3 separate regions of the Homo sapiens genome follow, and regions 2 and 3 are each linked to region 1. The links come from fine-mapping of genetic effects on gene expression. A gene starts in region 1. Each other region holds a variant in brackets. All regions are shown on one strand. Distances are from middle to middle.

The links. PIP is the estimated chance that this variant, and not a neighbour inherited with it, causes the effect.
Region 2: its variant is fine-mapped to the expression of RAMP3 in nucleus accumbens (GTEx, PIP above 0.99). The same link has a PIP of 0.9 or more in lung.
Region 3: its variant is fine-mapped to the expression of RAMP3 in whole blood (INTERVAL, PIP above 0.99).

What each region holds. Positions count from the first base shown.
Region 1 is chr7:45,156,432-45,159,190 of GRCh38, reverse strand. It overlaps RAMP3 (receptor activity modifying protein 3), which reads right to left and starts at 1,400. Exons shown (of 3, transcript NM_005856.3): 1 at 1,305-1,400. The coding sequence starts at 1,362.
Region 2 is chr7:45,209,990-45,212,748 of GRCh38, reverse strand. No RefSeq gene overlaps it. Among named protein-coding and RNA genes, the nearest start is that of RAMP3, 54 kb to the right of the region's middle. The variant C/G (reference allele first, on the strand shown) is at 1,621.
Region 3 is chr7:45,214,528-45,217,286 of GRCh38, reverse strand. No RefSeq gene overlaps it. Among named protein-coding and RNA genes, the nearest start is that of RAMP3, 58 kb to the right of the region's middle. The variant T/C (reference allele first, on the strand shown) is at 1,521.

The DNA.
Region 1 (2,759 bases):
GACAGTCAGGACCAACACAACAGGACAAAGAAGTGGCCCTCAGGAACTGGGTCCACGAGAGACAGGATTATTAAGGGGGGATTCTGTGCAGGCGGAAGCCTGTGGTCCTTCTCAATTTGATACTGGAGATGATCAGGAAAGCCTCAGCTTCTCCCAGAATGAATTGAGAGGACCTTCCTTCCACTATAGCGACCAAGATCTCCACCTAAGGGGCGCTCACTGGAAGTTTGCTGAAATCCCAAATCAGCATGCTCCTGATTTCAGAAGCTGCCATCCACCTTTGCACTTCAACACAAAATCCACCACATCCTAGGCTCCAGCCCTGGAACACCAAATGAAGCCACACAAGTTCTGCACACCAAGACCTCTTCAATGGAAGGAAAATGACCACTGAGTTTGGTCCACCCTTTTCCCACCTCCCGTACCAAATCCCAAATCATCAAAACAGGCCCAACTCTGCATCTTACAGCCAGGGAAACTGGGGACCACCAGGCCAGGGCCCTCCATCACCAATGTCCCCCCCAGAACTGGCCAGGCTCAGTCACCACTCAGTGGACCCCAGCCCTCAGCAAGCACTCTTCCCCAACAGCCTTTACACACATTCTCTCTCTCTCTCTCTCTCTTACTTTTTCTTGGATAATTTCTTTAGCAAGGTACTTCAAAACAAGCTTTTAGTTTAATCTATTTCCATTTTGTGAGCAATGGTTCTTCCTAGAGTCCTGATTTCTTGCCGAAGAAGGCATTAGGAGAGGATGGCTCAGAGAGTCGCCCCGCTTCCCCTCTCAGCCAGTTCCAGGACACACACAGGCGTCCACACACTGAGGGGCCCTGGGAGGACCAGCTACCCAGTCCGGAGTCCACCCGCCCACGCCCCTGTGAGTGGTGGGCAGGCACTCAATGCCAGGACAGAGAGCTCACTACCTTACAGACAGCCCACCCTGGGGGATAAGGGGTAAAGAGCCAGACCTGGTCCACCTCTTCTCGCCCACCCTGAGGCGACCCCAGAACCGGGGCGTGGGGGGACATCACAACTAGAAGGACCGGGGGCTGCCGGACCCTGCCGTCAGAAGACCCCGGAGGGGGCCCTGTGCCTCCCTTGCCCGCCAGAGTCCTTCGCCTTCAGCTTCTCCCGGGTGGAACCCTCCCGCAGAGCCTGGGAATCCCGCCAGGGTCACTGTGCGCCCCTCCCGAGCTCCGGGGCAAGGGAAGGACCGCGGCGCAGGTGCGGGAAGGCGCGGGTCCACCCGGGTCCGGTGAACCCCGAGGAGTGGGGGCGCCCCCGGTGCGGGCCGTCGCCCCCTTACCGCAGAGCAGCAGCAGCAACGGGAGAAGTTGCGGGCGCCGCAGCGCTCCAGTCTCCATGGCTGGCCGGCCGCAGCTGGGTCACGCTCGGTCCCGCTGGGGGCGCGGCTGGGGGACGCCCGGTTGGGGTTGGGGTGGGGCGGGGCCTCAGGGGGTCCGCCCTCAGGCCGCACCCCCAGACCACGCCTGCGGCCGTGCCCCGTTGCCTCCAGATGTGGGGTGCAGTCCCTGCAGGCGCGCCGGGTGGGAGGGATGGGGGCGGCTGGAGTCTCAGCGGGGTGAGAGGGGGGCGAGGGCAGGGTTTCGAGCTGGGGACAAGCTGGGGTAAGGTGGGGTGCCGGCTGATGGGCTCTGAGGGCGGGGCTGGGGTGCTGAGCTGCAAAGGAGCTTTTTGGGAGCAGATTGTAGGGGCAGACTGGGAGGTGAGCTGGGGTGAGCGTGGGGGCCGGCTGACGGTGGGCTGGGATGCAGGCTGGAGAGACTTGGGGAACTTCCGTCCAGGCTCAGGGGCAGAGGGTGGGGGTAGACCGGGGAGGGAGCTGAGGTGAGGATGAAGCGCTGGCTGATGATGGCCTAGAGGAGTCTGGGGGTAGACTGGAGGAAGGTGGACCTGGGAGTGGGCTAGGTGTGCCCTGGCCGAAAGTAGACCAGAGTCCAGAGCTGCCCCCAGGCAGGGAGGGGAACTTTGAGCAGAGATACATCTAGGAGCCAGGTCTCCAAAGGTCAGGAAAGTGCATAAAAGAGGTTGGGGGGTGTGTGTGTGTGCGTCTGTGTGTGTGCGTGTGTGTGTTGTTCATGGAGTACGTGTGTGTGATGTGCATGTGGGGTGTGTGTAGATGCATGTGTGTGCATGGAGTGTGTGATGTATGGTGTGTGTGTGGCATGTGTGTGTTTGAGTCTGAGACAAGGTGTGTTTGTGAGTGTATGCTTGGGAAACAGTGTGTATGAGAGAGACTGGAGGGTGTGGCAACTACACACACAGAGACGTATCACACACCAAGAACCAAGCCACAAGCAAACCAAGGGACAGGAGAGTATCTGGCACCACCAAAGACCTGGCCTTGAAGAGTGTCAGGGTCCCTGAGGCGAAGGAGGGCCTCAGTTTCTCCAGCCACAGGTCACTTGGCCAGATGGGTCACCTCTGTCACCCTCAGCCCCTAGCACAGGCCCTGGCTCCAGTGGACACTTAATGGTGTCTTAAGAATTGTCACTGGTCAGGACTTCCGAGAGCCAGCTAGAGGCACCTCTCTGCCCTCCAGGGCCCACCCACCACCCCTGGGGGCACATGCTGGTCTGAGGTTGGGGCACAGGCCCAGGCTCCTACATGGATGGGCCCTCCACTCCTCTGAGCCGTAGGTACTGCTACCTTCCCAGGAGCTGAGCTGAACTTCTCCTGGCTTAGAAAGACCCACTTTATTTAACAAGACCCTTATTCGGGAGAAGAACTTTCTGTGCTT
Region 2 (2,759 bases), 54 kb before region 1:
CCCCAGAGGGCAGCATCCACAGCTCTGTCCTCTGAGTTGATCAGTTTTCTCAGCGTAGGAAGGGGGATTTTCCAGTCTGCATATGGAGGAATGGAACATTCTAGAAGCCCAGCAAGAAAAGCAGCTGGAGCTCACCTTTCACAGTCTCACTTATTCACCTTCCACCCCAGCAGGTCTCCTGTAGGGTGGGACAAGGCTCAGGGACTTAACCAGCCCACAGCCCACCTGGGCCAGCGTCCTCACTTCCCTCCAGTTCTGAGCCTCTCTGGGGTCTGGGGCCCCATGGCTTGCTCCCCACTGGCCCACCCAGGTTTGTAGGTCTCACCTTCCCTCACTCTGCAAAGTTCAGCCACTTTCTGTCTCCCAAAATCTTGCTGACATCTCTCCTTGGCTGTCATTCCCTTTTTTATTCTCTTTGTCCTTGTATGTTCCTTCTCTGTTCATTGAGTGGAATTTGGGGAAATGAATGTTACTCCACCACACTTAACAAAATTCCCATCCATGAGTTTCTACCACCCGCCTGGGGTTCTCTCCCAACTGGGGAAGAAAGGGGAGAAGGACTGGGGTCATACAGGGCAATCTGCCAGAATCTGCCCATGTCTGCACCCTCTGTTCCTATTTCCCCTTCTTCGTATCATGCCCTGTGTCCTCAGACCTCCAAGCTCCACACAAAATGGGAGGTGTGAAATTTCTACCTCCCTGTCCTAGCACAATGGAGCCTGGCCTGCTAGACTCTTGCCTCACTAGAAATCCTAGTCAGTCTCAAAACTCAAAGCCAAGCAATGGCATTTGTGTCCTACCCACCATCTGAGTGTTATTAAATCAGTAGGTGGGAGCCACAGGACTACATGATCTGGGGAGAAATAAAAATTCATTGGTTTAATGTTTTGAATGGCCACCAGTATACTTCATGCTACAGGGGGCATGTGAAACAGAAGACTTTGGGCCTATCAGCTTTTCTGGGGAGGTGAGGAGCTCAGAACGGGAGGATGAGATGTTAATTAGGCCAGAGGAGAAGGAAGGAGGAAACCAAATGAGCAAATGGCCCAAGACAGGTGACTTCTCAGCACTCCCACAGCAGCAGCCATTCCCATGCCAGTCCTCAGTCTGATGTGTCAGATCTCAGGGCTTCTACTCATTCCCAGGGCAGAAAGTATGGCCATCACATGAAGCAATGGTAGGCATCCAGGACAAATTTGAGGATTTTACATTCAAAATTCATGTCCTAGAATGGCTCCGCCTTGACTTGTAAACACCAATGTTTAAAAGTCACTACCCTCTCAGGCCCTCAGTCAATCCCCGGGCAGTGCCAAGCTTTCTCCTACATCCAGACATCAGAGCCACACAGAGTGAAGGCACCAGGTCAGACGATCATCTGAGCTTTCCCTCAAAGCTGCTGCCCACACAGCCCAAGCTGACCTTAGTGGGGATCACACAGCAGTTGCGTCATGAGTGGACACTTTTCAAATGAAAGCTCTTGGGAACATCTCAGGAGACAATGGAGGGAAACCCACCTTCTTCTAATGAGCTTCCTCTCTGTCAAGTCCTGCACGGTGCCAGGCATAGGTGGGGCTTCCAGGATAATATCCTTTAATTTTAGGGGAATCACATGTAGTGTGG[C/G]CCCCTGGGCAAGAACAGGAAATCCTGCTAGATATAACTTGGTGTGTTTTATAGCTCCTGCAACTGTTTGAGAGACCAATATCAAATTGAAGGTCTGGGAGCAACTACACCTAACAATGAGACTCTGTCCCAGAAACAACAGCTTCCACTCTGCAGTCCCAGACAAAAATCCTGTCATTTCTGGTAGCCACGCATTAACTCAAGCGCTCAAGAATGCAGTCACAAAATGTACCTAATGACTCCCACATCTAGCTCTTGGCCTAAATCTCTCACCTAAGCTTCAGATTTAGATGTGAACCCAACATACCTCAAACCTAATGTGTCTAGAACAGAACTCATACTGGTGGGAGGAGGTCAGGGAGACTTTACAGATGAGGAAATCTTTAAATTGGGCCTTGCAGCAGAGTAGGAGGCAGAGATGGGAAAGAGGATGGAGAGAAGGTGGGAACACATTTGAGAAAAATTTAGATGGTAGAATCAATAGGGTTTGAAGACTGATTGGATGTGGCATTGGGGGAGGGCTATTAGGGGAATTCAATAGGTTTCAGCAACACATTTTTAAATACTCATTTTTGAAATAGATAATACATGTACATGGTTTAATATTCAAGGACTACAAAAAGGCATATCATGAAGAGTGGGTATTCTTTCCACGCCCATACCCCAGGCATCTGTCCCCTCACTGAGTGGGTCTAGGAGGGGCCACGAAGCATAACGTCTCTGCACCTGGGTCTTTTCACCCGATAACACACAGGGAAGACTATCCCCACTCAACACGCATCAAATGGACCACATTGCATTTGTACTTAACTAGAATTCGGTTCCTGAACATTTAAGTTGCTCTCTAGCTTTTGCTGCAATAAATATCCTTACAGATATATATGTGCAAGTGTATCAGTAAGATGAATTTCTTCAAGTGAAATTGATGAGTCAAACGTATATGCATTTCCAGTGGTTTTTGTTTTTTGGTTTTGGATTTTGGGTTTTCTTGAGACAGCGTCTCACTCTGTTGCCCAGGCAACAGTGGCACGATCACAGCTCACTGCAGCTTCAACCTCCCAGGCTCAAGCCATCCTCCCACCTCAGCCTCCTGAGTAGCTGGGACTACAGGCATGTACCACCATGCCCAGCTAAATTTT
Region 3 (2,759 bases), 58 kb before region 1:
CTAAATACATTGTTCTCTGGGCCTTAGCCTCCCCACCTCTGCCACGAGAGGAGGGTGCGCCCATTTCTGCTGTGGTTTTCTAGGATGCCAACAGCTCCTCCTTTGCTCCCTCCACAGGGAACCCTCACTGAAAGGCACTTGATCACTCCTTCCTGGGGTTCGGGCGTGAGCCCAGATCCCCTCTCTGAGCCTGGAAGCGCTTGCTGGCGTAGCTTAGAGGCTCCCAGGTGTTGCTCATCATGAGCCAGGTGTGAAGGAGTGTGCTGAGCCCTCCAAGGGCTGTGAGATGCTGGCCAGATGCTGGAGGGGCAGAGAGAAGCTGAGTTTCCATCGTGCTCACACACGATGGAATGACCAGACTTTTTGGCTCCCGGGAACTCTGTGGCTCAGACCCTTTTAAAGCTGCCAGGAAAGAGCCCTCAGTGCCCGGCTCCCTGGCACCAAGCACTTCCCACCGAGGAGCCAAGGATGCAGTCATTTGGGGTGGTGGGTGTGTGGGCACGATGGAAACTCAGCCTCTCTCTGCCCCACTGCCCTGCATCCCCTGCAGTGGGATCCCTGCCTCACCCTCAGAGGCCCACTGAGGCAGGTCCTCACTTTTCCGGTCACTCTCAGATAACAAAAGTCACACTGGTCCTAAACAGTCCATAGTCATGAAAATGGCCGGTCCATCAAAATAACCAAAACGCCCTGAGTGGCCCTGTGTGGGGACCACCTGCAGCGAGAAGGCTGGCGCTCAGCTTCCTTCTTCCTTCCAGGAGCCGCCAGCTTCTCCAGGCTGCAGCCAGCAGGCATGCAGGTGGAGGGTGTGGGACAGGCACTGCCTTGCTCTCCTCTGGCCAGGCAGTGCCTGAAGCAAGTGAGGATGCTCCCCAGGTCCTCCCTGAGCACAGCGTCCTCAAACAGCAGGAGGAGCTCATCAGGCTCTCCGTGAGTGTGAGAGAGCGAGGAGCACCACTGGCTCTGACCCTCTGCTGTGCATCCAGTCCCTCACCTCCCTTGGCAAAACTGACAGGGACACATTTCCATTCCCGTGTCCTGTGCTGTAGGATAGTGCTGTGGACTGAAGAATGTCCCCCAAAATTCTGGCATTGAAGCCCTAACCCCTAGTGTGATTGTATTGGAGATAGAGCTTTCAGGAGCTAAGTAAGGTTAAATTACGAGGTCATAAGGGCAGAGTGCTAATCTGATAGAATAAGTGCCCTTATCAGAAGAGAAAGAGGAAGATCGCGCACTCTCTCTCTCTCTCTCCACCCCCTTCTCTCTCTCCCTCCCTCCCCTTCTTTCTCTCTCTCCCTCTTCCCTCCCCGCCCATGTGAAAACACACGGAGAAGGCAGCCTGAGCTAACACAGATGGCAAAGCACGTGGAGTGCGCCTGGGGTGGCCCTGCCAGCAGATGTGCATCAGCTATCAAGGAGATGGTTTTCTAAGTGGAATTAGCATCCCCTACTCCCAGGCAGGCTTCAGCAATAGCACTGGGAGCGACACACACAGTGCTCCCTGTGTGCTGGCATCACCA[T/C]GTTCACCCTCCCAAAGGCTCCTGATGTGGATGAGGGAGCCCAGCCCCCACCTCCCAGGAAGCCAGAGAAACAGAAGTGAACCCAAGTTGGTGCTGAAGCAGGTGGTTTGGACCGCTCACTGAGCCACCTCCTGGTTTGCTGAGTACTGTCACAGACATATCATTTCACACTCAGTTCAGCAGCTTTCAGAGACAAATCGTTGTTGAGCTACTTTTGCAACCCACATGCTGCGTGAATGCTGAGGAGCCAAGGATGTAGGAAGCAGACACATCCCCTGCCCTCCTGGGCTCAGTCCACTACAGAAGATAAGACCCCATCAAACCATCACACGAGCACATGTAAACCTGCAATTGTATAAACCACAAATTCATACCAACCTTCGCAAAATTCCAGCAGGGATTTGTGAAGAATTTGAACAATCTTTTTCTGTAGTTGATATGGGGCAAGAAAGATCTGCAGAGAGCTCACCACACTTTTGAAAAGGAAGAGCAGGGAGGACTTACTCCTCCAGGCACTCAACCGCTTCAACCCTTTAGTGACAGCAGCTTCTCCGGGGTTCAGGACAGACAAGGAGAAGACCCAGGTGGATGGGGAGCTTGGAGTAAGACAGAGACACCGTGAGCAGAGGAGAGAGGACAGCTCCAGAGGTGGCACTGGGGAAATCACTCCTGAGACAAGCAAAGCCTGACTCTATACATGACACCACTTACAGAGGTGGATGTCATACGAATTCAAGACTGAAAATGGAGAGGTACAATTACAAAACCGAGAAAAAAAATCGAATCTCAGGACCCCAAACTCACTATGCCAAAAGGAGAGTTAAGCTTGGGATCTGAGTCACACGATACAGTCTTCCTTTTGTTCCCAAACAGATCGCTGTAATTTCACAACCCTGTGTCATAGCCTCATCCATAAGCCAGGTTCCCACCAGATGGAAGGCCACATATCTCCCCAGGTGGCCTCCCTCACAAATTGCTCACAAGTAAATTCCTCGTGAACCCCTCAGTCTTTCGGGATATATGCCCCTTTCCTGTAAATTAGCCCTAAAGCTGAATTCTGTTGAATCTCACCCTGACAATATCAGTTACCAGCTTATCTTCACAGGTGCGAAGAAAGACGAGAAATCATCCCTCTACCTACCCTGAGAGGAAGGCATAATTGACTTTTTCCTCTACTCCCTCCTTTCATGTGTGAAATGTGGATTTACTGAGCACTAATGGGAGCCTCACAAGAAATAA